Homo sapiens: one gene and its partners. The protein of the gene in region 1 interacts with the protein of each later gene in a pairwise test. Each region holds a gene or a part of one and is shown in the gene's direction. Other genes may lie near its edges.

Region 1 (5,852 bases):
CCAAAGAGTTCTGTCACCACCACCCAGGTTGCTTTTCCCATCCAAGGTGGGCGTGGCTTGGGACCTCCTCCCCGGCCCGATAGGCCCCTTGAGAGACTCTTGGGGGCAACCTCCCTTTCTACTTAGAGTCCTGTGTAGCCACGTTTGGCTGTGTTGTTGACATCGGGTTCACCATCGTGCCCCTTAGGACCTTGAGTCCTGCCTTTTAGAGTTCCTCCGTCACATGGGCTTTGGGAGGGAACATCGTATCCGAACTCTCCCAGCACTTAACGGCCCCCATGCCGGTGTCCCCTCTTTGGAATCCTTATTCAGCTCTGAATTCACAATCCGTCTCAATGTTGACGTGGGATCGGTGCCTGTGGCTTCAGCTCACTCACTGACATCACTTCCTTTCCACCCACAGCTCAAGTGCAAAAACTGTGAGGCCTTTGGCCACACGGCCAGAAGTACCAGGTGCCCCATGAAGTGCTGGAAGGCAGCCCTGGTTCCACCGAACTTTGGGGAAAAGGAAGGGAAGGAAAACCTGAAACCATGGAAGCCCCAGGTTGAAGCGAACCCTGGGCCCTTGAACAAGGATAAGGGAGAGAAGGAAGAGAGACCAAGGTGAGCAGTGGGAGTGGTTTTCACCACTCTTAGGGTACTGCCTCCTAAGGACATGGTGTCTCTGCACCTGCACACCGTGTGCCTTTCCGTCTCCGGGCCAGGGAAGGAACGCTGCAGAGAAACAGACCGGAGCTCTGTGTCTTCCGGAGTTCCACACCCAAGAGCTCCTTTGGCTCTGGGAGATTCAGGGACGGGGAGGGGCGGGGGCGCTTCGTGCAGGTTCCCCACGACAGGGGGAAAAGTGATGGAATCCAAATCACAGTCCTTAGTTGGGAAGCCTAGAGGGCCACCTGGAGGATGGGAAGGTTGGCACGTGAGGGAAGGTGCAGAGGCGGAAAGGGCACCAGATGTCCATTTCTGTATCACAAAACACGGAATGGGACTGGGCCCCAGACAGGGTTCTCCCCGTCTCCTGGGGAAAACCAGGGAGGACGGCCTGACCTTTTTCTGTTCTGCAGGCCACAAGACCCGCAGAGGAAGGCTCTCCTCCACATATTTTCCAGGAAACCTCCAGAGAAGCCGCTGCCAAATCAAAAAGGATCCACGGAATCTTCTGATTATCTGAGGGTGAGGGTCACCCTGGGCCCCTGGTCTTTTTCTCCTCTAGGTCACCCTGGTTGATTTCCTTTCAGCTTCCCGTCTGCGGGAGGGAATCGGGGAACCCCTCTTTCTTGCCTTCTTGGGGTCAGACACTCCACGATCCTTCCAGGTCAATTTGATTCCAGGCGAAGGCATCTGAAGATGCCGTATTTCCTGTTGCTTTCTTTCTGTCCAATTATGGCAAGCCTGCCAACAACACGTTCCTAGCGGCATGAGGAAATTAGTCCCTCAGAGGCCCCAAACGTGGAGAAGGCTAAACCCAGGAACATGCATATGTTCAGAGAAGACGTCCTGAGTACCCTTGAGCCACCAACCTGCCTTCGGAAGGGCATCAGTCGGTTCCACTTCATGGAAGGCTGAGTGGAGGCGCTTTGATCCAGCTAATGCCTAAGACGCAATCTTTTGAACAATGGTGTGCTTAGATCAGCTACACATAGCTCGAGAGCGCATCTTTCATGTGTCTTGTCCTGATCAGCACTCAGGTGGAGGGTCTGTCCCTACTTCCAAGGACCGCCTGTCGATAGTGTACTAAGAATTTCATGGCGTGTGCACCTTGTCTTTGGATGTGGTTGATTTTCATGTTGGCTCCATGCTGAGGAACTTCTAACCTGTGTTGTTTCCTCTCTTTCAGGTTGCAAGCGGGCCAATGCCGGTCCACACAACCAGTAAGAGGCCGCGTGTGGACCCTGTCCTCTCTGATCGCTCAGCTACCGAAATGTCTGACAGGGGCTCCGTCTTAGCTTCACTGTCTCCCCTCAGAAAAGCCAGTCTGAGCTCCTCCTCAAGTCTTGGACCAAAGGAAAGACAGACAGGGGCTGCGGCCGACATCCCTCAGACTGCAGTCAGGCACCAGGGCCCCGAGCCTCTCCTCGTGGTGAAGCCGACACACAGCAGCCCTGCGGGTGGCTGTCGAGAAGTTCCCCAGGCTGCCTCCAAAACCCACGGCCTGCTCCAGGCCGTCAGCCCCCAGGCACAAGACAAACGTCCTGCGGTGACCTCACAGCCCTGCCCACCAGCCGCCACACACAGCTTGGGCCTAGGCTCCAATCTCAGCTTCGGGCCAGGAGCCAAGAGATCTGCCCCGGCTCCGATTCAGGCTTGCCTGAACTTCCCCAAGAAACCGAGACTGGGTCCCTTCCAGATCCCCGAAAGCGCCATCCAGGGAGGTGAGCTGGGGGCCCCGGAGAATCTCCAACCTCCGCCAGCCGCAACCGAACTTGGACCACGTACGTCACCCCAGACAGGCACGAGGACACCCGCCCAGGTGCTTAGCGGCGACCGGCAGCCTCCGCACAGCAGACCTTGCCTGCCTACTGCCCAGGCCTGCACCATGTCCCATCACCCAGCGGCCAGCCATGATGGGGCCCAGCCTCTCAGAGTGCTCTTTCGGAGACTGGAAAACGGACGCTGGAGCTCCAGCCTGCTGACGGCCCCCTCATTTCACTCTCCTGAGAAGCCGGGAGCCTTCCTCGCTCAGAGCCCTCATGTCTCAGAGAAGTCTGAGGGTCCCTGTGTTCGTGTCCCACCAAGCGTCCTCTATGAGGACCTTCAGGTTCCCTCCTCCTCAGAGGACAGCGATTCTGACCTGGAGTGAGACTGCAGGTGGCAGGGGCTCCTTGGCCTCCAGCTCCCGTGACTTGGAGGGGACTGTGGGACTGAGGAGCACAGAGCAGAGAGCAGACTCTGTGCGGTGACTCCGAAGCTCCCCGGCTGTGGCCCTTCTGTGGATGTGGGAGCCCAGGCCAGGCAGGGAGCAGATGCAGGGACTCTGCCACGTTGAATTCTGGTGAGGGACATTGTAGTTCGCATGGTTCTCTGGAAACGCGCCAGGAAAAGCTTCCGTGCCAGTGATTCGTTGCCTCAGAAACTGCATGACGCGCAGGAGTCAGACTTCCGCTGGGACGTCAATAGGAAACGGGGGAATTACTGTGTATTTGCTCTCTAGACGACTGAATAAGGGAAAAGTTAGGGAACCCTGAGAGGTGCAGCCCTTCCGCTGTGCCCCGCCCTGAGAGCAGTGTTTCGGACGCTGGGAAGCGCGCTGTGCAAAGCGCTCTCGGGGTCTTTCCTCAGCCTCGAAAAGTGGGCTCTGGAATCCCTTTGTAAATAGGTGTGTTGAATTTGTTTTGAAGTGAATAAAATTCTCAAAAAGATGACATATTGTCTTTTGACTTTCATTCCGTGTTTGTGTTTAACTGATTTTCCAAGTGAAGGGGTGGCCTGCCCCTCCACACCTGTGGGTGTTTCTAGTCGGGTGGGATGAGAGACGGAGAAAAGAAATAAGACACAGAGACAAAGTATAGGGAAACAACACTGGGTCCAGGGGACCGGCACTCAGCACACCAAGGACCTGCACCGGCACCGGCCTCTGAGTTCCCTCAGTTTTTTTTATTATGATTTTCATTACTTCAGCAAAAAGGAATGTAGTAGGAGAGCAGGGTGATAAGAAGGAGAAGGTCAACAAAAAAAACATGTGAGCAAAAGAATCTATATCATAATTAAGTTCAAGGGAAGGTACTATGCCTGGACGTGCACGTAGGCCAGATTTATGTTTCTCTCCACCCAAATATCTCAGTGGAGTAAAGAATAACAAGGCAGCACTACTGCCAACATGTCTCGCCTCCCGCCACAGGGCAGCTTTTCTCCTAGCTCAGAGTTGAATAAATGTACGATCGGGTTTTACACCGAGACATTCAGTTCCCAGGGGCGAGCAGGAGACAGTGGCCTTCCTCCATCTCAACTGCAAGAGGCTTTCCTCTTTGACTAATCCACCTCAGCACAGACCCTTTACGGGTGTCAGGCTGGGGGACAGTCAGGTCTTTCTCATCCCATGAGGCCATATTTCAGACTATCACATGGGGAGAAACCTTGGACAATACCCTGCTTTCAAGGGCAGAGGTCCCTGCGGCTTTCCACGGTGCATTGTGCCCCTGGTTTATTGAGACTAGAGAATGGCAATGTCTTTTACCAAGTATACTGCTTGTAAACATGTGGTTAACAAGGCACGTCCTGCACGGCCCTAGATCCCTTAAACCTTGATTTTATACAACACAGGTTTTTGTGAGCTCCAAGTTGGGTCAAAGCGGCTGGGGCAAAGTGGCTGGGGCAAAGCTACAAATGAACAACATCTCAGCAAAGCAATTGTTTAAAGTACAGGTCTTTTTCAAAATGGAGTCTCATGTCTTCCCTTTCTACATAGACACAGTGACAGTCTGATCTCTCTTTCTTTTCCCTACATCCAAGGGCTTGAAAATTTCTTGACTTGTTCTCAATCCAAATCGTTATGTCTCTGAAACAGAGTTGACTGAGGGGACCGCAGGGCTGGGCAGGACCTTTGACTTCGTATACATCCACAGGAGCAAGAAAACCTCAGCCCCACTCTACCAACACACACCTAGTAAAATTCCGCCAACTGAATCTCACGCACGCTAACACGTGGGGAGCGTTGCTTGCACCACGAGTCCCCATTTGGCTCAACCGCCGATGCCAAGTGTGTGGTTCCAGTTGCGACGGCCCCCCGTGAAGTGGCTTCCGGATGTGCGAATGAACCAGGCAGAGTTTCACTGGCCAAATAGAGCCCAGCAAAGCTGAAGTTAACTCCCAGATTTGGGATGTACTTCAGAGGTAAAACATTCATCCCATCTTCTTTCCGGATGTCTGACACCGGGCCTTTCCATGGTTCTCCCCCTGATCCTAAGAGTAGCTGAGGTAGAGACTCACTGAAAGATCTAGGCAGGGATATCCCATCATGCCCAGGCTCTCTCCATTCTCTGACCTGGGAACAACTCTGAGCAGGATTCCACATCTAGGAGGCCTCGGAACTGAGCGCGATTTTCTGAGACACACCAAATGGCTGCTCCCTTTCCGCCGCTGTTGAGGGTCGTTATCCTGATTATCCAGATCACCTAGAAAGTATCCGTATCCAGAATCAATAAGATCAACTCTCTGCTCCTCTGACAGCAGAAGGAGCAGGACCACAAGGAACCAAAGAGCGTGGAAGGAAACGATGTGACAGGAAAGCTCAGAGAACGGCCACAGGGGGTCGTCAGCAGGCCTTCCAACCTGAATCATGAATAATTAATGAAGCGCAAATCAAAGGGGACTCGAGTTTCAGCCTGTGCAATTCATCCAACGGGAGATCGCCGGAGGGCCAACACGATTGAGAAACTGGGAGTCGGGTGCTGTGTCAAGTGGGACGCGACTGGTTCCAAAGCTCAAGAAGACCTTGGGTCACTTGGGCTACATGAGAAAACGCCCCAGTGTGCTGGTTCAGCATTCCGACTCCTGCCTGTCTCTTCCCGTCCAAGGAACACCGACCCTAACTCGTGCAGCTGCAGATGACCATGGGCAGAATTAGGGGACGTGGCACAAAAGTTCACCGACACGGGAGTTCCACAGAAGGTCCGGTGGATCTTCGCAAATCCAGAGACATGGCAATGGGACCCAGGGAATTAGAGCCTCACAGGCACCTGGGAGACTTTTCAGGCATAATGCCTAGAGTAGCAAGACGAGCTGAAAAAGGAGCCAGGCACTGAAGGACAAAGCGGTATTGACTTTCTTCATCTGTGTTTCCCAGTGCGGTCCAATTCACTGTGGTAGAATTCATGTATTTATTTTCCGTCGGCTTGTATTTGCAAACTTTTGATGTT
Region 2 (8,993 bases), on another chromosome or scaffold:
AGTTTCTGGATTGTTACTCATATAAACGTTGTATTTTTGGTCTTTTTTTTTGTATTATATTTTTTATTTGAGAGGGGTGTGTCTATAATTTTTGTCCCTAGTCTCTATTCTCCCCACCTCCCGCCATTTAATGAACTCCTAAGCTCCTCTACTGTTGGGACCATATCTTACTCATATTTAGTTCTTGTGTCTATGCCAGGGCAAGCAGGTGCCTCATATATTTTAACTGAATTTGAGCAGGTAGTGAAAAATGTGTTTGTGGCCCAGGCTAGAGTGTGATGGTGCGATCTCGGTTCACTGCAACCGCCGCCTCCCAGGTTCAAGTGATTCTTCTGCCTCAGTTTCCCAAGTAGCTGGGATTACAGGCATGTGCCACCACCCCCGGCTAATTTTGTATTTTTAGTACAGTTGGGGTTTCGCCATGTTGGTCAGGCTGGTCTCGAACTCCTGACTTCAGGTGATCCACCCGCCTCAGCCTCCTAAAGTGCTGGGATTACAGGCATGAGCCACCACGCCTGGCCTGTTTTTAAGTCAACAAGAAAATTATCTACAACAGGAACTTCATTAGTGCTACAGTTTAGAATATACAAATATGAAAGGTTTCTAACTTTACCTTGTACATTTTGCATATATCATTAGTCATTGTTGGACACTTTGGCCATGCTTAATATAATTCAGTACTGAATATGTATTTCAATGTGAGAGTTTTTGACATCAACATTTTTAACTTTTGTCTAATTTATAATCTTAGAGTTAATGGAAATCAGTGCCTCTATAACTATGGTTTTAACCAGCTAATAAGTTGTCTTCATGATCTTTAGCTTCTAAACAATGAATAGTAGATACCATTTTTTGTTAAGATCTGTGTCTGAATTGAAAGGGATCAAAGTGTATGGTGAATAAAGCAGTAGAATGCAAATCAGAAGATATAATATTTAACATGATTAGCTAGTGTTAACTCTTGCTGTCCATCAGTTACATAATTAAAATTTTTATTCAGCACTTGATTAACATAAATGTTTCTCAATTTTCTATCTTTGTTCTACAGAATGGTAGATAACGCAGATCATCTCTGGAAAGGATATTGATCCGCCTCATGTAAAGTATGCTTAGTTCCTTTCCAGTGGTGTAAGTATCAAGTCCTTTTTGATTTTTATCTTCACAATCATTTTAGTAAAGTTAAGATGTCACTATGATTATGATCCAGATTTGACAACAGACGTTTGTAGAGTTGAAAAGCTTTTTTAGAAAATGAATCAAATGTTATACCTATTTGACATTAAGGTGAATAAGTGTCATGATCATGTGGTGAGAAATGAATTTTTAAATCTATCAGCCTTCTCTTACCATTTCTGTTTTCAACTTTGAATTTTAACATTAATTTTAAATTGAATATAAAATTAATTATTATTTTTAACTGCTTAAAGCTTAGAAGCATCCAAGATAGATGACTAACAGTTCAAGAGAGCTAATATTAGATTCCTTGTGACAAGCAGACTACTGGAAGCATACATCTTCATGTTGCCTTTTGTGTAAAAACTCCTAGCACCTTAACCATTTTCCTTTACCTGCTGGGGGCATGATGATGTAGTTAAGCCTATTAGCTGATGTGCTAGCCTTTCTTTGGAGTCAGGCAGAAAATACAAATTGAGATAGTGGTATTGTGTTGAGAGTGTTTTTGTGCTAGGATATGAACTATAACCACCAGTTCATATTAAATAGGCCTTTGAATAAAAGTATTCCGGGAATTTCAGATATTAGAGAAGACAGAGTATCTATTAGCTCATTAAGTGCATCTTTAGAGTCGAATGCAGAGTGCCTTTAGCATAAGTATTTTCTAAAATTTGATGGAGTCTCCACTTTGCTTAAATTCCTTCCGTTTTGGTTGACAGTTCTATAATACAGTAAGTAAACATTAAGAGAGATTTTCCTTATTATTTAGGCTTTTCATTATAGTTCCCCCACCCCCACCCCAGTAGATTCTATGATATAGTGAAAAGTTTCTGGAACAGACCTAGAAGATGTGAACTGTAGCCCGACTTTCTGCTAAGTAGCTATATCCTTGGGAAGGCACTTCACCTCTTTGGGCCTTAGTTTCCCTCCCCACTTTTTAAAAAAATTTATTTGCTAATGGCTATTTTCAATCTATCAGCCTTCTCTGTTACCATTTCTATTTTCAACTTTGAATTTTGACATTAATTTTAAATTGAATATAAAATTACTTATTATTTTTAACTGCTCAAAGCCTAGAAGTTTCTGAGATAGATGGCTAAGCATTCAGGAGAGTTAAGACGTCTAATGGCTATTGAAAATAGTAAGATGTCTAATAGTTACTGAAATGAATGTAAGCATCATGAAGCCATGAATTTTTGCCTGATTTGTTCCTTGTTGTGTCCTCTGTGCCTTGCACAGGATCTGTTACATAGTAGGCATTCAATAAATGTTACTTAAATGAATGATTTTTGTCTAAGTGATCTCCAGTTTTCTCATTCCACACCTAACTTATATCTCCCTTTATAAATGTGCATGTTTGTACTTGGATTTTTGTCACATATGGTAGAAATAAGATGATCAAAGTATGATTTCATGAATCACAGTGTTTATTGCCATACAAAGAGAATTTTTTCTTGGGTTCACAGTACTTAAAGATGGGGAGAGTAACATAGACAGACTTCACAGGGAATACACTCAATAGATGAGGTACATTAACCACATTATGAATGTGTTCCAAAGCTATTAAAGTGTCTTTGCTCAATTATGATGAAAGGAGGCCTCTGTGTTCAAGTGAAGGCTAAAGGTGGAGGTGTACCTTTACATGAGCAGTTCTTGGGAGAGGCTGGCTTGACCACCATAGCTGAGATCTGAGACCACAAGGAAGGCCCCTCAGTGCTAGAAAATGCTGGCCTGCAAGGTATAAAAGCTTTGAGGCCTGTTGCAGCCTGAGCTCTCTGGTTTTGGAGAAGCTGCTGACAGAGAGTAGCCCTGCCACAGCCTAAGCTCCCAAAGTGTCTGTTAAGCTCTTGAGTGTATATGTATTTTGAAGTCCAGTAGTTGTGACAGTAACTCACATATGCAGTTTGACATGAGGTGACATTCCTGAGAGGATGGAGAGTTCTCTCTCTGATAAAAATATTGTGATTGACCCTAGAGTGTGTTAAATTAGCATGCAGTAAATATCATGTATGCAAAACAAAACTAACCTATTTTGCCTAGTCATTCTAGATAATAAAAATAAAGACAGCAGAATTGAGCTGAAGAAAAAGCTGTTATCCAATAAAATTTTACTGTTGGTGCTTTACAAGTAAGATAGTAATGTCCTTTTTACCTCTGTGATTTCAAGATTAATTATTTGTGAATGCTTTAATCTTCTTTGCTCTACATGTTTGTAGAATTTAGCTTATGAAAGTATATTCTAGACCTCATGCCTTATCCAAGAAGGGTTTAGGTACATATTCAAGTCAGGATAAAATGTATTGTGAAAAGTTATTATTATGGTCTTATGGTATGATATTTTCTTAGAATATCAGTTTATGAACTGAGCCATAATTCCTGAATTTAATTGTTCTTTTATGCCTTAAACACTGTCTGTTATTACAGTGGTGAAATTCTTCTCACATCATTTTCAATTATTGTTGGCCTGAGTCTGCATTCAGATTAGTAATTTAAAGTGAAAGATGTTCCTTATCCTCTGAACAATCCTTGTGCATAAGAAAATTAATTCAATTCTTACATGTTATCTTTTTCTGTTATAAAAGAATTGCTGGTATCATGGACTTAGATGACCTTTGTAGGTCATTTACTGCCATAAATTCGTGATTATATGCTTAAACTAGGTAAATTATGAGAAATAAAATTGTGAAATGCCGGAGTATATGCCTTTGTTTATATTAATACACATTGGAACATTATTCTCAATATCCAGGAGAGCTTCTAGACTCAGCGTTTTCTCAGTAAAATATTGTATCTTCAGTGTCACATGCATGCTTTGATCCTGTTTGTTATGCTCTTAATCACTTTGCTTTGTAGTGATCATATGAATGATCATTCTAGCAATTGTGGATCATTTTGCTTTAGGTTATATTTGCATTAGGAAACTCTCAGTGCAGGGCACAGACATCTAATTTGAACAAGGTGATACATAAAGGGAAATGTATTCTCTGATGAAACAAAACAGCAAGAAGAGCAGGGATATATCAGGGGCTTAGGGATTATTGGAACAAGGGATGTGAGTGCTGCAGAGCTTTCTCCATCGCTCTGTTCCACGTTTCTTGGTATGTCTGCTTCTTCCTCCCATGAACTAGCTGCTTCCATATAATGAGGAATTTACCAGACTAATATCTTCCTGCAACTGAACACAGTTATGGTGACTGTTCATCTTTCCCCTCGTCTGACTAGAAAATTATGGGGAGAGCAAGGTTTGGCTTTCTTCTGTGCTCACCCCACTGGCCAGAAGGTGGGGTATTACGAGTGATAGCCCAAGAACATGTGCTTGGAAAGAATGAGGTGTTCTAAGCAGACAAAGTAAATAGGTGGCCTATTGTTTCTCCTTTTATGACTTGGAATAAAAGTGGTTCTAATAGTCAATGAATCTGAAATGACACAAAATATTAGATTGTTTCATATGCTGTGAAATCTTTAGTTTTGACAATTCTAATTCAAGTGTTAGGATGGATACTTTTCAGTAATAAGTGAAATTCATACAATTTACTTTTGCTTTATGCTAATACAGAGTGCTGCTCCATACAAGGAATGGTTTGAAGAACTGTATATAGATAACTAACTGCTCTGATATGAATACTATAGGAAAATACTATGATTGGGGATTTTTGTCCATATAATAAAACAGTTATTGAAGTCATCTAAAGTAAGATCACTTTATGAAATACTTTGATAACATGAAGACTGAAAATAGCAACAAACAGGTCTACTTCATTTTCAAGGGAAAATAATAATGTTTATGTTTAATTTTTTTCATTACAAAATATTGTGGGGGAACTTAGGCCATCAAGAAAGAATATAATAATCATGAAAATAGGTCTTTTTAAAATCATGGCTAACTTGTTACAAGTGAGTATTGGAAGAAATCAGACCCTAACATTTGTAGGTGTAGAGCAGATACTGTGGCCCATGGGCACAAATGGCCTGCAACATGTTTAGGTCCACAGAATGTGTGTGTTTGGTTTTGTTTTATTTTTATGAGCTTGTTTTAAAAACCAGGAAGATTTCATCTACAGTTCTAGATTTTTCCCTACTTATTTTTAAAAGGATTTGAAAGATAAAACAATCAGTGAAATGGAATAGACTATCCAAAGGTAATGCAGATTCATATGGAAATTGTGTATATGATAAAGGCAGCATTTCACATCGGAGGAGAAGACAGATATTCAGTAAAAACATACGACATCTAGCTGTCCATTTGGGATGAAATAAAGCCCCAATTTTTTATACTTGTTAAGTCAATAAAAATTCTAGATGGAGCAAGGATTTTAAATGTAGAAAACTATTACTAGGACCCCTAGGTTCATCAGTAATTAGAATAGTTTTATCTAAATGGCTTTAAATGAGACTTAAAGGAGTAGAATAGCCTGTGTGCCAAATCATATGTTTCCAGTTAAGTCCTGCAATGTATTGTAAAGGAGAATGATGTGTGCTTTTGGAGTCAATAAGATCTAGGCTTAAATCTTTTTCCTACTGTTTACTCAGATTTTTTGTGAAGTACAAAACTACACTGAGCTTTAGTTTCCTCAACAATCAATCCATCAACATAAAATGAAATGAATAAAGAACATCTACCATGGGGAGTTGCTGTGAGAATTGGATGAGATTATGTTATGTGAAATTCGTACCCAGTTCCTGCCTAGAAGTGACTGTTAATAAAGTTTTCATGTAGAAGGACAAAGAAACAGTGAGACCTTCAATAGCTATAGGACACTGGCCCAGAGCAGATGTTTGTTTGAGAAAGATGAAGAAATTTCTTGACATCTGTTTCCATCTGCAAACACTTATTGAGAGCCTACTGCATGCCATGCATTATATTTGGCACTAGAACAATAAATATCAAAATAGAAGAGATTACAACTTTAAAAAATCTTGAATGGAAAACTCAGGTCTTATAAGAAAGGAATTCAAGGCCGAGCATGGTGGCTCACACCTGTAATCCCAGCACTTTGGGAGGCCGAGGCGGGCGAATCACCTGAGGTCAGGAGTTTGAGATCAGCCTGGCCAACATGTTGAAACCCCATCTCTACTAAAAATATAAAAGTAGCCAGGCTTGGTGGCAGGTGCCTGTAATCCCAGCTACTCAGGAGGTTGAGGCAGGAGAATCGCTTGCACCCAGGAGGTGGAGGTTGCAGTGAGCCAAGACTGCGCCACTGCACTCCAGCCTGGTTGACAAGAGCAAAACTCTGTATCCAAAACAACAACAACAACAACAACAAAGGGATTCAAGCAGTGAGAATTTTTATAGTATTTGACTACTCCCTTAATATTGTTACTCACCCTAAGAAAACATTTTCTGATGTGCTGTAGTATCTTGTGCTAGTTAAAGGAAACATGTAAAAGTAATTTCCTAAGAAAAATGAATAGCATTGTTTGGCTACAACCATGAAAGATCTATTTCTCAGGGTAGCTATTAAGAGAGAATGCATTACCAGAGATGGAAAACTTAGGAAATTGCTAAGTAGTGAATGAAATGGTGCTTATTTTTTTTTTTAATGTACCTCTGTTTTCCACTTAAGTATTTTTGCTGGTTATTAGCATTTGCTTGGACTTAGCTTAGCAAATCATTTGTTCTCACTAAATGAGGTTGTAGAGAATTCCTAGGTCTGTTTAGCTAATATTTGGTAAATAATATAATACAAACTATTTTTTTCAGTAATTTTCCATTAATACTCTAATGTAGAGTAATACACTTGAGATGGGCAAAACACTTCTGAGTTATCACGTAGCCTGGGCTTATTGCACTCCATGTACCTAATCTATTGTTCTGGTATTATTTACATAACTAAAATTTTGGTTCTGATATTTACCAAAATTGAGGAAAATGTAAATTGTATGCCATATGAAATTAGGTTTTATGTTACACCTATGTTCACCTACTAATACATTTAGTATCTGTACCAATCCATTTGCCATGGCACAATCATTCTAGCATGGGACATACCTTCATTTTCAATACAGAAGCTTATGTAGAAATATTGCATCTTCTGAGCATTCTGTATAATATGTGCTTTGGTAGATACTGTCAATAAAGAGACTTCTTTTTATCTCTTTTTTTTTAGTTTGCTGGAAACCATGTCTCATTATACAGATGAACCCAGATTTACCATAGAGCAGATAGATCTGCTTCAGCGACTTCGGCGTACTGGAATGACTAAACATGAAATTCTCCATGCCTTGGAAACTTTGGACCGTCTTGATCAAGAGCATAGTGACAAGTTTGGAAGAAGGTCCAGCTATGGAGGAAGTTCATATGGGAATAGTACTAACAATGTCCCAGCATCTTCCTCTACAGCTACAGCTTCCACACAGACGCAGCATTCGGGAATGTCCCCGTCACCTAGCAACAGTTATGATACTTCCCCACAGCCTTGCACTACCAATCAAAATGGGAGGGAGAATAATGAGCGATTATCTACATCCAATGGAAAGATGTCACCAACTCGCTACCATGCAAACAGCATGGGTCAGAGGTCATACAGTTTTGAAGCCTCAGAAGAGGACCTAGATGTAGATGATAAAGTGGAAGAATTAATGAGGTTAGTGACTTTGCTTATTCAGAGTCCCTAAAAATGTCTGTATTCTTAGATTGTTTTTAAGTAGTATGCTGCGTTTCAGCTACTTAGCTATAAGAACTGTAACTTCCTCTAGCTATAAGAACTGTAACTTCCTCCTCCCACCTTTGGAGATGAAAGAAAGAAAGTTCAAGCTTTATGTTTTTAATTTAAATTTTCTCTTCTTTACTTCAGCCCTTTCTCTTTGCTGCTTGACAAGCCTTTTCCATTCTGTTTATCAAACACTAATCTTCTCTATGACTCTAATAGCTAATTTCTGACTAACAGACACATTCTAATCCTTAAAAATCTGTTGTAAGTACTTTTTCTGAGGGATAATTTTATCTTGATCAGAATATGTACACTCTTAATTTTTCTGTTCAACATTCCAATCAAGAAAATAATTTGGGGTACCTATTATATAGGTTCTAATTTTAGCAATAGATGACACACACACACACACACACACACACACACACACACACACACACACACATTGTCTTTTATAAGTGTAAGAACTTAGAGTTTTAAACACTGAGAAAAGAAATCTACTTTTTTTTTTTTTTTTTTTTTTGAGACAGAGTCTTGCTCTGTATGCCCAGGCTGGAGTGCAATGGCGTGATCTCGGCTCACCACAATCTCTGCCTTTCCAGGTTCAAGCGATTCTCTTGTCTCAGCCTCCCGAGTAGCTGGGGTTACAGGCATGCACCACCATGCTGAGCTATTTTGTATTTTTAGTAGAGATGGAGTTTTTCCATGTTGATCAGGCTGGTCTCGAACTCCTGATCTCAGGTGATCCACCCGCCTCGGCCTCCCAAAGTGCTGGGATTACAGGCATGAGCCACTGCACCCAGCCGAAAAGAAATCTGCTTTCAACAGAAGTAATTAGGAAAGGCTTCACACTGGACCCTGGGACACTTTGAGGGTAACAGCATGTGTTTTCCATTATTGTGCCTCCAGGATCTGGAACTTTCCCTAGCACATGTTAAGGGCCTGATATGTTTAATGAATGGGTGACCTTGACCTAAATGGTAAAGAATAGCATTTGTTTTAAAATACAGGAAATGTATTTAAAATTAAGGGAATAGTAAAGGGTAAGAAAGGCAAGGCATGTCTTCAGTCTGATAAAAATTACTGATGGGTAAGACAATGTAATATGAATAATATATTAGGAGACAAAACAGGTTTTGGGAGACTTTGAGTTCCATACTAGTTTATTTA
Region 3 (8,993 bases), on another chromosome or scaffold:
GCAATTATTTTGGTATTAAAAATGGGGAAAATTTGAATTTTAAAAATTTAGACATTAACTACTGAACTATATTAGAAATTACTTTTGAGGTATGGGTAAAATGATTAATAGTCCATTTTGTTAGATTTAGTTTTTGTTTTTATATTTATTCTAGGTGATTCAGGTGTCTGGGGATTGAAAAAAAATTTTGCTTTATTGGAGCTTTTGGAACGACTGCAGAATGGGCCTATTGGTCAGTATGGAGCTGCAGAAGAATCCATTGGGATATCTGGAGAGGTATTGATCATACTTGGTGAAATATTTGTTACGAGCATGAATTTTTCTTTTAATAGATGCCATTATTAGCACAATATTACTTCATTTATTTCAGCAGGTAAATTTCTAGAAACACAACTTTTCATTACATTACAGTTCTGAAGGCCAACACTATTCCCAAGAGAAAAAACTAGAATTATTTGAAAATCCTATGCCTAAACTATGCTTTATGTGTGAACTTTTTTTTCCTTATCATAATTCAGTTCTACCAAGAATAAAGTGAAAAGAGGAAGAAGATTATGGAATAGTAAGAAAGATATGTAAGCAACAGTAGAGAAGAGGATGCAAAAGTAGTCAACAGTAAAACTCAATGAGAGAAAGAAAAACTCGATGTAAGAGGCCATTTAATACAGAGGGGAAAATGCCTTAAAGATAGCAGTAACTTCTGAGGGAATTGTTACTGTTATAGCTTCAAGAAAAGGTTAAACTTTGTATAGATGTACTGTCTTTATCCATACAGGTAGATGTCTAGTAAATATCAGAATCCATGAACACTGGATTTTAATAATGTAAAAGTATATTTTTAGCACTTATGTGTTTGCATAGCTGCACATATGTACTATAGGACATGGCTTTCGTAGGCTGTTATGGGTAAAAATATATTTGGAGTAAATATCAGTTAATGATTTTGGTGATCAACTTGCAAACCACATATTTTGTATGAAGGAAAAAAAATGTCGGATTGCTTTCACTTCTCTTTCATTAGATGATGATTTCTTTATACTAAAGTGAATCAGTGAAATGAATTTCAAACTGCAACACTCTGTTTTCTAAAAGTTATGCAGTTCTTTCTGTGCTAAATCTTTAATCTTTATTTCAAAAGACATTACTGTTAGCTAATGTTGACATTATAGTTTATAATTTATTTATTTGTCAGGTCTGGGAAACAGAAGACCTGAATTTTTATGGTACATGTGTTTATTTCTCATAATTGCAAACAAAACTCTTCCACTTTGGATTCATTTTTTATTTAATGTGATAAAGAATGACACCATTGATGTATTTAAACATTTTTATTTTTGAAAAAATTTATACTAAATTTCTCCCCTTCCAATTATGGCCTTTTAATATTGAGTAAAAGTGTTCAAAACATTCTTGATTATCTGACATGTAATTTTTTATCTACTTGAAATAAAAGTAATTATTTCATAATTAGTTATTTTTTGTAATTCCTGAAAACTAGAAATAATATTTACATGCTTACATATAGGTTTTATTTATTTGTTTATTGTTATTTTTTAAGACAGAGTCTCACTCTGTCACCCTTGCTGGAGTGCAGTGGCGTGATCTCAGTTCCCTGCAGCCTCCACTTCCTGGCTTCAAGTGATTCTCGTGCCTCAGCTACCTGAGTAGCTGGTATTAGAGGCATGTACCACCACACCTGACTAATTTTTGGATGTTTAGTAGAGATGGACTTTCCCCATGTTGGCCAGGCTGGTCTCTTACTCCTGGCCTCAAGTGATCACCTGCCTCAGCCTTCTTAAAGTGCTGGGATTACAGATGTTAGCCACTGAGCCTGGCCTATTTTTTTTTTTATTTGCTTAAATCAGTGGTTTTCTGCCGTGATTGTGCAATAGACTCACCTGTGGAGCTATTAAAATAACATGGCGTATAATTAGAAAAATATATACAAGTCTAGGGTTCATCCACAACCTGTTGAAATAAGAATTTCTCTTCCAGACAGCTATGTTTTTAAAAGCTTACAGCTAATTCTGATGCATACTCCTACATTTTCTAAATAGCATTTGTGCTTCTGTCCTTCCTATACATCATCATGACAACTAATATTTAAAGCTATGGGGATGTATTTAATATCAGATTTTTGTAGTTTTACAGAAAGACTTTTGACTTCTCTATGGTTTAGTTTCTTTTGTGTAAAGTGAGGGGATTTGGTGGAAGAGATCTTTGCACCGAATATGAATCTATGAGAATAGTTCTATTTTTGGCTTCAAATTCATAACATATATTGGCCAGTTAATCTTGGAAATAGCTTCTTACCCCTAGAAATGAATGCTTCTCAGATGAGTATTGAATGACCTTTGTTCTTAATGACCAATATATTTTCATATGTAAATATTGTTCAGTTAAGCAAAAAGGATTATGGATTCTATATTTAAAAATTCGTCATGTTATACTGATTGGGTTCAATTTTAAGGCATTAATTTTTTGTTTATCAGAGCATCATTCGTTGTGATGAAGATGAAGCTCACCTTGCCTCTGTATATTGCACTGTGTGTGCAACTCATTTGTGCTCTGAGTGTTCTCAAGTTACTCATTCTACAAAGACATTAGCAAAGCACAGGCGAGTTCCTCTAGCTGATAAACCTCATGAGAAAACTATGTGCTCTCAGCACCAGGTGCATGCCATTGAGTTTGTTTGCTTGGAAGAAGGTTGTCAAACTAGCCCACTCATGTGCTGTGTCTGCAAAGAATATGGAAAACACCAGGGTCACAAGGTATGAATTTAATTATTAATCAGTTGGATCACTGTAGCTACTTTACCAGCTCAGTATTCGTTTTCACTGACCTGGTTCTTTATTCTGAAAGTAGGGATTGAAGAAGAGTTAAGTGATGAGTGATTGGGTTTGGTAGCATGAAAATAAATGAGAGATTTAATTTCTGAATGTTATAAAAAAAAAAAAACTTCAAAGAGGCATCATGATTCTTCACAAAAAAATAGCTTTCGAGCAGGAAACAAACATTCTGTTTGCTTGCATGTTTTCATAATGCACCAGATTGTTTTGACAATATTTATGTCTGTTAGCTCTTACTTAGGATATGATTTTAGAGATAGTCTCTTGGTTTTTTGTTTAGCAATAAACGGACTTCCAAATTTTAAATTACTTCTTTGCAGTACAGTTTTCTTATAAAGGAGTGAAAGTAAATTAGTATTTTTCTGTGTCATAAAAGTCACTTGTGGCTGATGCTTTTTTGTATTAATAGGGATTTAAATAGTTTTTTATATTATTAGTCAATACTATGAGTTCTTTTCTCTAATTATGGTACATTTTATAGCATTCAGTATTGGAACCAGAAGCTAATCAGATCCGAGCATCAATTTTAGATATGGCTCACTGCATACGGACCTTCACAGAGGAAATCTCAGATTATTCCAGAAAATTAGTTGGAATTGTGCAGCACATTGAAGGAGGAGAACAAATCGTGGAAGATGGAATTGGAATGGCTCACACAGAACATGTATGGATTTTTTTTCTTCTTCACTTTCTCATTCTTTTTTATTTTTCATATTTTCACCTTCTACTAAGTAATTAATGGGCAATTACAATTTGCCAGTATTGCACCAATCATTAGAAAGTTTTTTAAAAGTCCCTGTCTTTCAGGAACTCATTCATCATGGAAAAGAGAGAGTTTGAAATATGGTAACTATTTTATGGAGGAGAAGTACAGGGTGCTTTGGCATCACAAAACAGGGACAATGATTTATGGAGGTCAGAGAAGTCCTTATAGAAGAAATGGTGTTTAAACTGAGATTTGAAGAATTTCAGTCAGGGAAAAGAGCAGAACGGGGAATGAGTTGTCCCAAGAAGGGAACAATATGTTAAAATGTTTGTAAGTGAGGATTGTACATATTGTAGAGACTTAAAGAAGCTCACTGTAGTTAGAGCTTTAAGTATTGAATGGGACATGACAAGAAAAGAGGATATGGAGAGTTCAAAGCCAAATCATGCAGGATCTTGTCAGCCATGTTAAAGAGTTCAGAACTTAGTTTAAGGACAGTGATGAGCCATTGAAGAATTGACTTAGGAATGATATAATCAGATTTTCCTCAAGAAAGGTTGTTTTAAATGTAGAAAATGAATTGGAGGAGCAACAAAATTGGAAGCAGGCAGACCTATTAGGATGTTGTTAAAGTTTTCTAGTTAAAATACTAGAGATGTTTATGGCCTATAATACACTAGGGTAGTGAGAGTGGACACAAGTCAATGGATTTGAGATTTTAAATAAGTAGAATAGATAGGTCTTAGTGATTAATTGTTAATATTGATTGGATAGGTAACTTAGAGGTGATGAGGCATGATCAGATTTTGGGTGTATTTTGAAGTCAGCAGAATTTGCTGAGGGACTAGTGGGCTATGAAAGAGAGCTGATAATGATGACTCCGGTTGTTTTTGCTTCAACATCCTGAAGGATGGAGTTGCCATTTACCAAGACAGAGGCAATTAGGTTTGGGAATAGGGGAGACTGGAGATTAGGCATTCCATTTTGCTTGAGATGTCATTTATAAACAGTTGAATTTCCAATGTCTGTGCATTAGGGGAAAGATCTAGCATGGAGATTTATATTTTGGAATTTAATATAGATGGTATTTAAACAATGTCTCGCTCGGTCACCCAGGCTGGCATGCAGTGTTGTGATCACCACTCACTGCAGCCTTGACTTCTGGGGCTCAATCAATCCTCCCGCCTCAGCCTCCTGAGTAGCTGGGACTACAGGCACATGCCACCACGGCTGGCTAATTTTTTCCATTTTTTGTAGAGACAGAGTTTTGCCATGTTGCCTAGGCTGAAATTTTAAATATTTCACAGGTAAAATCTTTATTAACATTACAGTTGCTTAAAATTTATTTTCATTTTCTTAGGTACCAGGGACTGCAGAGAATGCCCGGTCATGTATTCGAGCTTATTTTTATGATCTACATGAAACTCTGTGTCGTCAAGAAGAAATGGCTCTAAGTGTTGTTGATGCTCATGTTCGTGAAAAATTGATTTGGCTCAGGCAGCAACAAGAAGATATGACTATTTTGTTGTCAGAGGTTTCTGCAGCCTGCCTCCACTGTGAAAAGACTTTGCAGCAGGTAGGTAGTTTAAATGTGGTTAGGGACTTAGTTGTAAGTTTAAGTAGATAATTACCAGAGGTATACATTAGTGTGTTTTATTAATATTTTGTGTCTGCTGTATGCAGTAACTTTGTGCTTAGGAAATGGTCTGCAACCTTGAATTATTTCACTAGTATGGAATTATCAGTGTCGTTCACGTGCCTTTCCCACCATAAGCCATGGGTTCTTGAGGCCTTCTAACTTCTTGCCATTCTTCAGTTATGCCAAATCCTTTTACTCTTCTTTGCCAAGCATATATGTAGTTTTTTTTTTTTTTCTGCTTGGAGTGCATATATCTCTCTTTTCTAATAGTGGAAATCTTCCTTCTCCTTCAAGGTCCAGCTTAAATATTTGCCTTTCTTTGAAGCTTTCTATTTGTTGGTCTTTTTTTGAGTGCCTCTCTACCATGTACTGCCTACGTCTGCTATAATTCAGTGGTTCTTCACTGTTAGAGCAAACGTATGTTTTGTGATGGTTGAGATACCATAAGAAATTTGTTACCCAGTTTGCAGATGACTTACTTTTTTAAATAAATGAGATTCAGTTATTCTAACACAAATGTCAGCTTTACCCATTTGTGTTTTGGATCTGTTTTCATAAGTGTGAGGTATAAGAATAACTATTGCCCTAGGAATTTCAGAAAAGCTGCAGTCTGTGTTATCTTCACTGATATATTGCTAATAATTGTGTTGATTTCAAATCATTGTAGGCTAAGCCTTGTACCATTGTAGAGCTTTTTCTCTTAAATATGTGATTACACTTACATGAGAGTGGCCAGTCTATAGCCTCATCAGTCTTGGGTTATCATTTAGTCCTTACCACACTGAATTGTAACAGTTGATATGTATGCTATTTATTAAGTTGATTTTCAGCTCCAAACCTACTCTTCTATCCTCTATTTTGTGATACTAGGGCTAGAACTCTACAGACCTCATAATTGTGTTGCCAGCTGGGCCCATGTTAGGTACTGTCAAGAGGGGGCATAGTTACTCATGTGAGGAGACCACCCTTCTCGGAGGTTTGAGTTTCAGCTCCATGAGCCACTCCTGCAAGTTTCTAAGTTTTAATAATTCTAACTTCTTCCTTTTATTCCTTTAGCACTGGAAGTGGTAGCTATGTTATTTCATACAATTGCTACCTCCTTAATACCTCAGAGTTCCTTTTAACCTTTTAGCTACCTAGTTAATAACTACACCTAGTTAACAGTTTTTATTTTAAGTTCTTTCTATTCAAGTAATGGTGTGATTTGTGTCTTCCGATTTGACCTTGAATGACACAATATGCCTATGTGTTTTAGATGCTGACCTTGTTCATCTTTGATGCATCTTGTTCATCTTTGTGTCACTAAATTCTTTGCATCTAGATAGAAAGAGCTTAATAAATACATGTTTAACTCATGGCGGATAATGAAGCTACATAGCAAAATCAGAGTGGAGTCATGTCCTAAATCATATTTACTTGAACACTTAAAAGTATTTTCATATTTATTTTATGAAAAAGTTTGTTCATAGTTACTGAAATATTTAAGTATTTTAGAGTTTCTGAAGTGTTGTGCCAAAATGACTGGTATATTAGTCCATTTTCACACTGCTTTACAGATACTACCTGAGACTGGGTAATTTATAAAGGAAAGGGGCTTAATTTACAGGTTTGCATGGCTGGGGAGGCTTCAGGAAAGTTAGACAATCATGGGGGAAGGCGAAGGGGAAGCAAGCACCTTGTTTACAGGACGGCAGGAGAGAAAGAGAGAGCAAAGGAGAGGTGCCACACTTTAAAACCATCAGATGTCATGATTAATCACTATCATGAGAACAGCATGAGGGAAACTGCCCCAATAATCCAATCATGTCCCTCCCTTGACATGTGGGGATTACAATTCGAGATGAGATTTGGGTGAGGACACGGAGCCAAACCATATCAACTGGTAATTTTTAATGATACAGTATTATCTATGTTAATGCAAAAAAATCAAGGTCTTGGATTCATTTTTCATATGGACCTATTAGTTTTGTTCTATTTTATAACTACAGAATACTAACCAATGTTCTTTAAAGTTCCCACTACAGAGAAAATTGAACAGAGGAATGGATGGAACATCACAAATTGATCTTCACTTCTGAGAACATAATTTAATCATCCATCCACTCTAAACAAATTATGCATCATCTAAAGTTCTTGGCATGATACTGGATGCTGAATATTTATTCATTTAGCAAATATGTATTGAGTAGCTAACATATGCCATGTATTTAAAATATATCAGTGAACACAATAAGCAAAAAGCCATAATCTTGTGAAATTAGCATTCTAGCAAGAAGACAGGCAATAAACCATAACCATATCTAAGTAAGTTAATTATACTATATGTTAGAAAGTTCTGAGAGCTAATCAAAAAAGAATTCTGCAACTACATGTTTATGTTTGTACAGCAGATTGCATTAATAAGTAGAGTAGTCAGGGTAAGCATTATTGAGGGAAGGTGAGATTTGAGCAAAGATTCAAGTAAAAAGTTGAAGGAATTCGTTCAGGCCGTAACTGGGAGAAGAACATTGTAGTTGAGGAAATGTTATAGCAAAAACCCTAGGGCAGCATGCCTGGTATGTTTGAGGAACAGGAAAATAGGCCTCTTGACTGGAGTAGAATAAGCGAAGGACAGAGTAATAGGAGCTGAAATCAGAGGTTAATAGAGAATTATATGTAAGGAAGGCCCTGTGAGGCATTATAAGGACTTCAATTGTTTTTTTTTTTTTTTTGGCCGGGGGCGGGAGGAGTGGGTTGGGGACAGGGTCTTGCTCCCAGGCTAGCTAGAGTGCAGTGATACAGTCTCGTCTCACTATACCTTCTGCCTCCTGGGCTCAAGTGTTCCTCCTGCTTCAGCCTCCTGAGTAGCCTGGACTACAGGGGCAAGCCACCACATCCAGCTACTTTTTTTGTATTTTTCGTAGAGACAGAGTTTCGCCATGTTGCCCAGACTGGTCTAAAACTCCTGGGCTCGAGTGATCCATCTGCCTTGGCCTCCCAAAGTGCTGGGACTACAGGTGTGAGCCACCATCCTTGGGTGGACTTCAACTTTTACTGATTGGGATAGGACCATTGTAGAGTTTTGAGTAGAAGAGTGACTTAATCTTATATGTTAAAAGGATTTTTCTGGCCTATGTGTCTAAAATAGATTGAAAGAAGGCAAAAATGGAAGGAAGGAATTCAACAGTTAAGCAGCAGTTGTAGAATTCCAGGTGAGAGGTAATAGTGGCTTGGATAATGGGGATTAGAAGTGCCCAGATTCTGGATGTTCAAAAGGATTTGTTAACAGATTGTACGTAGGGCATGCGGGAAAGAGAAAGCAATAATGACTTCAGCGTTTGTCCTGAACAACTGAAACAGTGGAATTGCTGTCAACTAACATGAGTATCTAACAGTGAGCAAAAACAGATAATACTACCGTTCTCATGGAGCTTGCATATTATTGGGAGATCTCTTTCATATAAAGACTATGTTGGTATATGTATAGATAGTCTGGAATAATATTCAAGAAACTGGAAAGTTCTTGACTTTGAGGAGTGGACCTGTATTCTTTATTTTTTTTAACGAATACATGTATATCTGAAATTAATTTTTAAACTTTTTATAGACATAGAACATAGATATAGAAATGTATGCATAAGTATTCAGTTGGCTGAATTTTCAGACTGATCATTAATGTGTAACTAGCACTCAGATCAAGTACCAGAACATTGTCAGTACCCCAGTAGTTCCCTCATACTCACTTCTGGCCACTACCTGCCTTTCCCACCATGATAAACCACTATCTTGACTTCTAATGTATATCTTAATTTTGGTTGTT
Region 4 (7,472 bases), on another chromosome or scaffold:
GACAAAGGGGAAAAATAAAACCCCACAGAAAGAAGCAGGGAAGTAAGGGAAAGGGACTAATAAGAGTCAAGCAGGGCCAGGGGTGTTGGCTCATGCCTGTAATCCCAGCACTTTGGGAGGCCAAGGTGGGTGGCTCACGAGGTCAGGAGATCGAGACCATCCTGGCTAACACGGTGAAACCCCAACTCTATAAAAATACAAAAAATTAGCCAGGCGTGGTGGTACGCGCCTGCAGTCCCAGCTACTCGGGAGGCTGAGGCAGGAGAATCACTTGAACCTGGGAGGCAGAGGTTGCAGTGAGATGAGATCATGCCACTGCACTCCAGCCTGGGTGACAGAGCGAGACTCCATCTCCAAAAAAAAAAAAAAAAGTCAAGCACATGCAAATGTGGCATGACTTATTGGGAGCAGAAACATTCTGAGAAAAATTATATAAAAATGAGGTTTTAGATTGAAATGGTCTACTAAGTGCCCAATGCAATGAATGAAAAATATATACATTGAAACATAACACTGTGAAACTTAAGAATGCTGAGGACAAAAAATATGAAAGCTTCTAGAGAGAGAGAGATCTCAAAGAGGCAGGCTTCAAAATGACTTCAGATTCCTTTTTTTTTTTTTTTTTTTTTTTTTTCAGAGACAGGGTCTTGCTCTGTTGTCCAATACAGTGGCATAAACAAGGCTCACTGTAACCTCAACCTCCCAGGCTCAAGTGATTCTCCCACCTCAGCCTCCCCAGTAGTTGGGACCACAGGGGCACACCACCACGCCCAGCTAATTTTTAAATTTTTTTCTAGAGGTGAGATCTTGCCATATTGCACAGGCTGGTCTTGAACTCCTGGGTTCAAGTTATCCTCCCACCTTAGCCTCCCAAAGTGCTGGGATTATAGGCATGAGCCACTGCATCAAGCCCAGCTTTCTTTTCTTTTTTTTTTTTTTTGAGATGGATTTTTGCTCTTGTCACCCAGGCTGGAGTGCAATGGCGTGATCTCAGCTACTGCAACCTCTGCCTCCTGGGTTCAAGCGATTCTCCTACCTCAGCTTCCCAAGTAGCTGGGACTACAGGTATGTGCCACCATTGCTGGCTAATTTTTGTATTTTTAGTAGAGACGGGGTTTCACCACGTTGACCAGGCTGGTCATGAACTCCTGACCTCAGGTGATCTGCCCACCTCAGCCTCCCAAAGTGCTGGGATGACAGGCATGAGCCACCATGACTGGCCCAAGCCCAGATTTCTTAAAAAGCTAGAAAACCATGGAGGAATGCCTTCAGAATTCTGATGGAAAGTTAATCCCAACATAGCAGCCTGCTTTCAGCCTAACTGGTATTAAAATAGAAGGGTAGAGGCCGGGTGCAGTGGCTAACGCCTGTAATCCCAGCACTTTGGGAAGCCGAAGCAGGTGGATCACCTGAGATAAGGAGTTCAAGACCAGCCTGGCCAATGTGGTGGAACCCCATCTCTATTAAAAACACAAAAATTAGCTGAGCGTGGTGGCAGGCACCTATAATCCCAGATACATGGGAGGCTGAGGCAGGAGAATTGCTTGAACCTGGGAGATGGAGATTGCAGTGAGCCAAGACTGCGTCACTGCACTCCAGCCTGGGTGCCAAGAGCGAAATTCCATCTCAAAAAAAGGTAGAATAAAAATCTCAGAGAAAGCAAGACCTCAGAAAAAATATTGTCTTTATATTCTTTCTGAGGAAGCTTCTGGAGGTTGAGTTTCACCAAAAGGTGGGCATAGACAGGAAGGAAAAAGAAACAGACAAATGGTTGCCTAAGGGACACAGGAGAGAGGTGATCCTGCACACCGGTGTAGAGGGCAACGAGGCCAGTTTGGAACGGGTTTGAAAATTTAGGGTGAAAGACAGTACAGAGTGCCGTCTCCAGAGCTATGCTTCTCTCTGGAGTGAACAGATGGGCCCGGGGGAAGGTAGGAGGCAGGGGAAGCATCACATGTATTGATGAGACCTACAATGATGATGGTGCATGGCTGAGCCTGAGCAATGGGACAACGAAGGCATGTGTTCTGGCTGGGTGTGATGGCACATGCCTGTAACCCCAACACTTTGGGAAGCCGAGGCAGGTGGATCACGTGAGCCCAGGAGTTTGAGATCAGCCTGGGCAACATAGAAAACCCTGTCTCTACAAAAAGTACAAAAAATAGCCGGGTGTGCTGGTTCACACCTGTAGTCCCAGCTACTCTAGAGGGGGAGGCGGGAGGATCATCTGAGCCCAGGCAGGTCAAGGCTGCAGTGAGCCATGATTACGCCATTGAACCTGGGTGACAGAGTAAGATGATGTCTCAAAAAGAAAAAAAAAATGTGTTCCTTGCCTGGCACCTCTCCTCACTAGCATCTTGATAAGAGCCTTCTGATTCCCTCACACTGCAAGGAATAAGAAGATGAAATCTAGGCTGGGTGCGATGGCTCATGCCTGTAATCCCAGCACTTTGGGAAACTGAGGCGGATGGATCACTTGAGATCAGGAGTTTGAGACCAGCCTGGCCAACATGGTGAAACCCCGTCTCTACTAAAAAAAATACAAAAATTAGCCAGACATGGTAGCACATGCCTGTAGTCCCAGCTACTTGAGAGGCTGAGGCAAGAGATTAGCTTGAACCTGGGAGGTGAAGGTTGCACTGAGCTGATCGTGCCACTGCACTCCAGCCTGGGCAATAGAGCGAAACTGCCTCAAAAAAAAAGAAAGAAATCTGCCTAAATAAGAGGAATTCTATGAATACACACATTCTTGTAGATGTTCAGAGTATCCCTGGAAGGATACACAAGAAGCTGGTCTTGGTGGTTTCTCTGGGAAAGGGACCCAGGTGGTTTGGAGAATGAGGAAGAAGCCTCGTGGTTCACTTTTTTTTCTGTTAAATCTGCACCATGTGCAAAAGACAAAAAAGATCACCTGTCCCCACCCCCACAAAAAATAAGTCAGCTATTGCAGTAGCCTAGGCTAGCACTAAGGTTATCGCAGCAACAGTGGGGGGATTTGAGCAAGACTGGAGATAGCAGAAAGCCAACATGTGCTCAGTGCCCTCAAGGTATTTATACTCTAGAAGGGGGCACACGTGGGAAAAATAGATTAAACGGGGGCTCATCAGAGAAACACTGGACTCCACTGGACTGGCCAAGCAGACAGGAGGGAACCCACCTTCATGCACCTGCTCCTTTTTTTTTTTTTTTTTTTTTGGAGATGGAGTCTTACTCTGTTGCCCAGGGTGGAGTGCAGTGGCGTGATCCCAGCTCACTGCAACCTTCGCCTCCCAGGTTCAAGCAATTCTCCTGCCTCAGCCTCCCGGGTGGCTGGGACTACAGGCATTCGCCACCACACCTGGCTAATTTTTTGTATTTTAGTAGAGACAGGGTTTCACCATGTTGGCCAGGCTGGTCTCGAGCTCCTGAACTCAGGCAATCCACCCTCCTTGGCCTCCCAAAGCGCTAGGATTACAGGCGTGAGCCACCGCGCCCGGCCACCGGCTCCTATTTTTATATCCCACTCTGGAGCTCTGGTTCCCGGGCACTTGCTCTTCACCTCTGACTCAGAGCGTGAACCTGACTTCACCCTCCTACCCAGGTGGCCAAGACTAAGCAGCAGATTGAGGAGCAGCGGGTGCAGGTGCAGGTGGTGGAGCGGGCCCAGCAGGTGGCAGTGCAGGAGCAGGAGATCGCCCGGCGGGAGAAGGAGCTGGAGGCCCGGGTGCGGAAGCCAGCGGAAGCGGAGCGCTACAAGCTGGAGCGCCTAGCCGAGGCAGAGAAGTAAATGTCCCCTCCCTGACCCTGCCTAGCTCACTTGCCACCTAGGCACCCCAAGATGGAGTGCTGAAGCCTTCACCACCTGGACTCCTATGGATTTCAGGTTTCAGGAGCGTCTGCCTCTGCAGCACTGGGCCTTTCTCCTGGGAGTAAGGGCTGCTGGGCTCCACCCTCCACTTCCCTTCTGTCCACAGGTCCCAACTAATTATGCAGGCGGAGGCAGAAGCCGCGTCTGTGCGGGTGAGTTAAGAGGCAGTTCCATGCTGGCTTGTGGAGAGGGTGGGGGTTGCTGCTTGATCGGGGATTTCTTGTTCTTAATGATTTCCGTCAATCTCACAAGCATCCTTAACCCTCAGATGCGTGGGGAAGCTGAGGCCTTTGCCATAGGGGCCCGAGCCCGAGCCGAGGCTGAGCAGATGGCCAAGAAGGCAGAAGCCTTCCAGCTGTACCAAGAGGCTGCTCAGCTGGACATGCTGCTAGAGAAGCTGCCCCAGGTCTGGAGGTCATGTGGGCACCAAGAAAGGAGGAAATAGAACCAGGGACTAAGGGGTGGGGTGTAGTGAGGGGCTTAGGGAGAAACAGCCTAGGGGGACTCTAAATTAGGGGTGGGAATTATTAGTGACCAAAGTGAGGAAGGATGATCAGTGGAACGAGGACCTTAAAACCCAGAGTAAGTTGTTTTATGAGGAATGTGGTCAGATCATGGGCACTGAGTGGGTGTCTCTCTCCTGCCAGGTGGCAGAGGAGATCAGTGGTCCCTTGACTTCAGCCAATAAGATCACACTGGTGTCCAGCGGCAGTGGGACCATGGGGGCAGCCAAAGTGACTGGGGAAGTACTGGACATTCTAACTCGCCTGCCAGAGAGTGTGGAAAGACTCACAGGCGTGAGCATCTCCCAGGTGAGGTCTCAGGTTGGAGCTGAGGAGAATTGCTAGGTTCCTGTGTTGTGTGACACAGTATGCCTAGCATTTAACCAGCATCCAGGCCTGGGAGTCATTGATGTTTATTAATCACTTTCTGTGTGCCAGACACAGTGCTAAGCTTCTACATAAATGAGTTGTTTTAAATCAAACTACCATTAGGGTATATAGGATTTTACAAAGTCCAGAAACTCAACATCCAGCATGTTCCTACTCATTCTGCTAGTGCAGCTGGAGTGAAATCCAGGTCGACTGTCTCTGCAACCTGTGCTTGTGGTCACCCCACTAGTATAGGGAACTAGTTGCAGCCTATTGACAGTTAATTAATTCTAGGGCATATCACTGCTTTTCTCAGCGCCCCAGTTAATTCACCTGTAGATCATGGTAGAAGTCAGCAAACAGGCTCTGGAACCACTGTTTTGTTGCGAATCCTAGCTACAATGCCTGCTAGCTGTAATCTTGGACAAGTAATCAACCTCTCTATACCTGTTTCCTCATCTTAAAATTGGGTTAATAATTAGAAACTACCCTGTTGAATTGTTGAGGGGCTCGAGCAAATATTTGCAGTGTTTAGAATAGTGCCTGGTATATAGTAAGCATTATGTGTATGTTAAAGAAATGGGGCCAGGTGCAGTGGCTTACGCCTGTAATCCCAGCACTTTGGGAGGCTGAGGCAGGCAGATCACCTGAGGTTAGGAGTTGGAGACCAGCCTGGCCAACATGGTGAAACACCATCTTTACTAAAAATACAAAAAAAAATTAGCCAGGCTTGGTGGTGCATGCCTGTAATCTCAGCTACTCGGGAAGCTGAGGCAGGAGAATTGCTGGAACCCAGGAGCCGAAGGTTGCAGTGAGCTGAGATCACACCACTGCACTCCAGCCTGGGTGACAGAATAAGACTCTATCTCAAAAAAAAAAAAAAATTCCAGGCGCGGTAGCTCATGCCTGTAATCCCAGCACTTTGGGAGGCTGAGGCGGGCGGATCACGAGGTCAGGAGATTGAGACCATCCTGGCTAACACAGTGAAACCCCGTCTCTACTAAAAATACAAAACAGCCGGGCGTGGCGGTGTGTGCCTGTAGTCCCAGCTGCTGGGGAGGCTGAGGCAGGAGAATGGTGTGAACCTGGGAGGCAGAGCTTGCAGTGAGCCGAGATAGCACCACTGCACTCCATCCTAGGCAACAGAGCAAGACTCTGTCTCAAAAAAAAAAAGAGAAAGAAATGCATATTCGGGCTGGGTGCTGTGGCTCACACTTGTAATCCCAGAACTTTGGGAGGCCAGGGTGGACGATCAGCTGAGGTCAGAAGTTTGAGATCACCCTGGCCAACATGGTGATACCCCATCTCTACCAAAAATACAAAAATTAGCTGGGTATGGTGGCGCATACCTGTAATCCCAGCTACTCGGGAGGCTGAGGCAGGAGAATCACTTGAACTCAGGAGGCGGAGGCTGCAGTAAGCCAAGATCGCACCACTGCATTCTAGCCTGGGTGATAGAGTGAGATTCCGTCTCAAAAAAAAAAAGAAAAAAAAAAAGCGTATGTAAATAAAAGCACTGGATCATACCAATGACCTTCAAGCTGGGTTCCTTGGAGCCTCCTGGAGGCCTGCAGTAGAATATTCAGAGCTAAGGAGAGTGTGCAAACAAGGCTCTGCCCCCTCTCCTCTCTTCAGTGATTTATTGTATGTGGGTCCTGATGTCTTTGTTTGGGGAAACAGGTGGTAGGGCACCAGAAAGAACCCTGGCCGTGTGTGTTCTGCCTATAGCCCATTCGTCTAAACTGGGGCCCGGGAGAGTAGGGGCCTCAGCCTCCCGAATGTTCCCAAGTGTCATCTACTGTTGTCTTTTTGCCAGGTGAATCACAAGCCTTTGAGAACAGCCTGAGCCTTCAGCCCTCACAGATGCCCAGCCTCATAGCTGAAGTTGCCTGAATGATCCTCCTGTTGCATGTAACCCACTGGCCTCCCTGAGCATGTCCATTGACAGTGAGGTCCCACCCCTCATCTCTCCTTGCCAAATAGTTTGTGCCTTGTCTTGAAGGGGGTTGCTCCCCTTGCCAACCTCACACTGCTATGATTGCCAACTCCAGCGGTCCCATGTCAGCCTTCTGATGATCCCACTCCACCCCACCTCAACTTATTTAACTTCCTAATTAAATCAGACTGTTTGAGCCTGTTGTCTAGAATATTTTCCTGACCAAGACTGAGGGATGGGCTGGAGGTTTTCAACTTTGCTACCCAAATAAATTGCTGTAAGTAAGTACTAATAAAACAGAAGCAACTGGAAATTAATGCTTGGCCCGGCACAGTGGCTCATGCCTGTAATCCCAGCACTTTGGGAGGCCAAGGCAGGCAGATCATCTGAGGTCAGGAGTTCAAGACCAGCCTGGCCAACATGACGAAACCTTGTCTCTACCAAAAATACAAAAATTAGCCAGGCAGGGTGAAACATGCCAAGTAGTAGTCCCAGCTACTTGGGAGGCTGAGGCAGGAGAATTACTTGAACCTGGGAAGCAGAGGTTGCAGTGAGCCAAGATCGCACCACTGCACTCTAGCCTAGGTGACAGAGTGAGACTGTTTCAAAAAAAAAGAGAAAAAAAATGAATGCTAGACTCAGGTATGGTGACTCTTGCCTATAGTCCTAGCTACTTGGGAGGCTAAGGTGGGAGGATCACTTGAGCTCAGGAGTCTAAGGCTGTAGTGAGCCATGATCACACCACTGCATTCCAGCCTGGGTGACAAAGCAAGATCCTGGCTCTATTAGAAAGAAAATGAATGCTAGAATGTAGCTT

The links.
Region 2: the proteins of FAM90A1 (region 1) and HMBOX1 interact in binary tests that used the Homo sapiens proteins (3 or more experiments, as listed by UniProt).
Region 3: the proteins of FAM90A1 (region 1) and TRIM23 interact in binary tests that used the Homo sapiens proteins (3 or more experiments, as listed by UniProt).
Region 4: the proteins of FAM90A1 (region 1) and FLOT1 interact in binary tests that used the Homo sapiens proteins (3 or more experiments, as listed by UniProt).

What each region holds. Positions count from the first base shown.
Region 1 is NC_000012.12:8,218,767-8,224,618, reverse strand, and holds the end of FAM90A1 (protein FAM90A1), read left to right. Parts: intron 1-403; coding exon 404-603; intron 604-1,061; coding exon 1,062-1,170; intron 1,171-1,834; coding exon 1,835-2,797; 3' UTR 2,798-3,359; downstream 3,360-5,852.
Region 2 is NC_000008.11:28,962,763-28,971,755, forward strand, and holds part of HMBOX1 (homeobox-containing protein 1), read left to right. Parts: intron 1-1,048; 5' UTR 1,049-1,105; coding exon 1,106-1,128; intron 1,129-7,280; coding exon 7,281-7,757; intron 7,758-8,993. UniProt on the Homo sapiens protein: Binds directly to 5'-TTAGGG-3' repeats in telomeric DNA. Associates with the telomerase complex at sites of active telomere processing and positively regulates telomere elongation.
Region 3 is NC_000005.10:65,605,381-65,614,373, reverse strand, and holds part of TRIM23 (E3 ubiquitin-protein ligase TRIM23), read left to right. Parts: intron 1-154; coding exon 155-276; intron 277-518; exon of another isoform or gene 519-647; intron 648-2,492; coding exon 2,493-2,771; intron 2,772-3,330; coding exon 3,331-3,513; intron 3,514-4,915; coding exon 4,916-5,131; intron 5,132-8,993.
Region 4 is NC_000006.12:30,727,209-30,734,680, reverse strand, and holds the end of FLOT1 (flotillin-1), read left to right. Parts: intron 1-3,580; coding exon 3,581-3,762; intron 3,763-3,953; coding exon 3,954-3,999; intron 4,000-4,115; coding exon 4,116-4,253; intron 4,254-4,494; coding exon 4,495-4,659; intron 4,660-6,535; coding exon 6,536-6,565; 3' UTR 6,566-6,972; downstream 6,973-7,472. UniProt on the Homo sapiens protein: May act as a scaffolding protein within caveolar membranes, functionally participating in formation of caveolae or caveolae-like vesicles.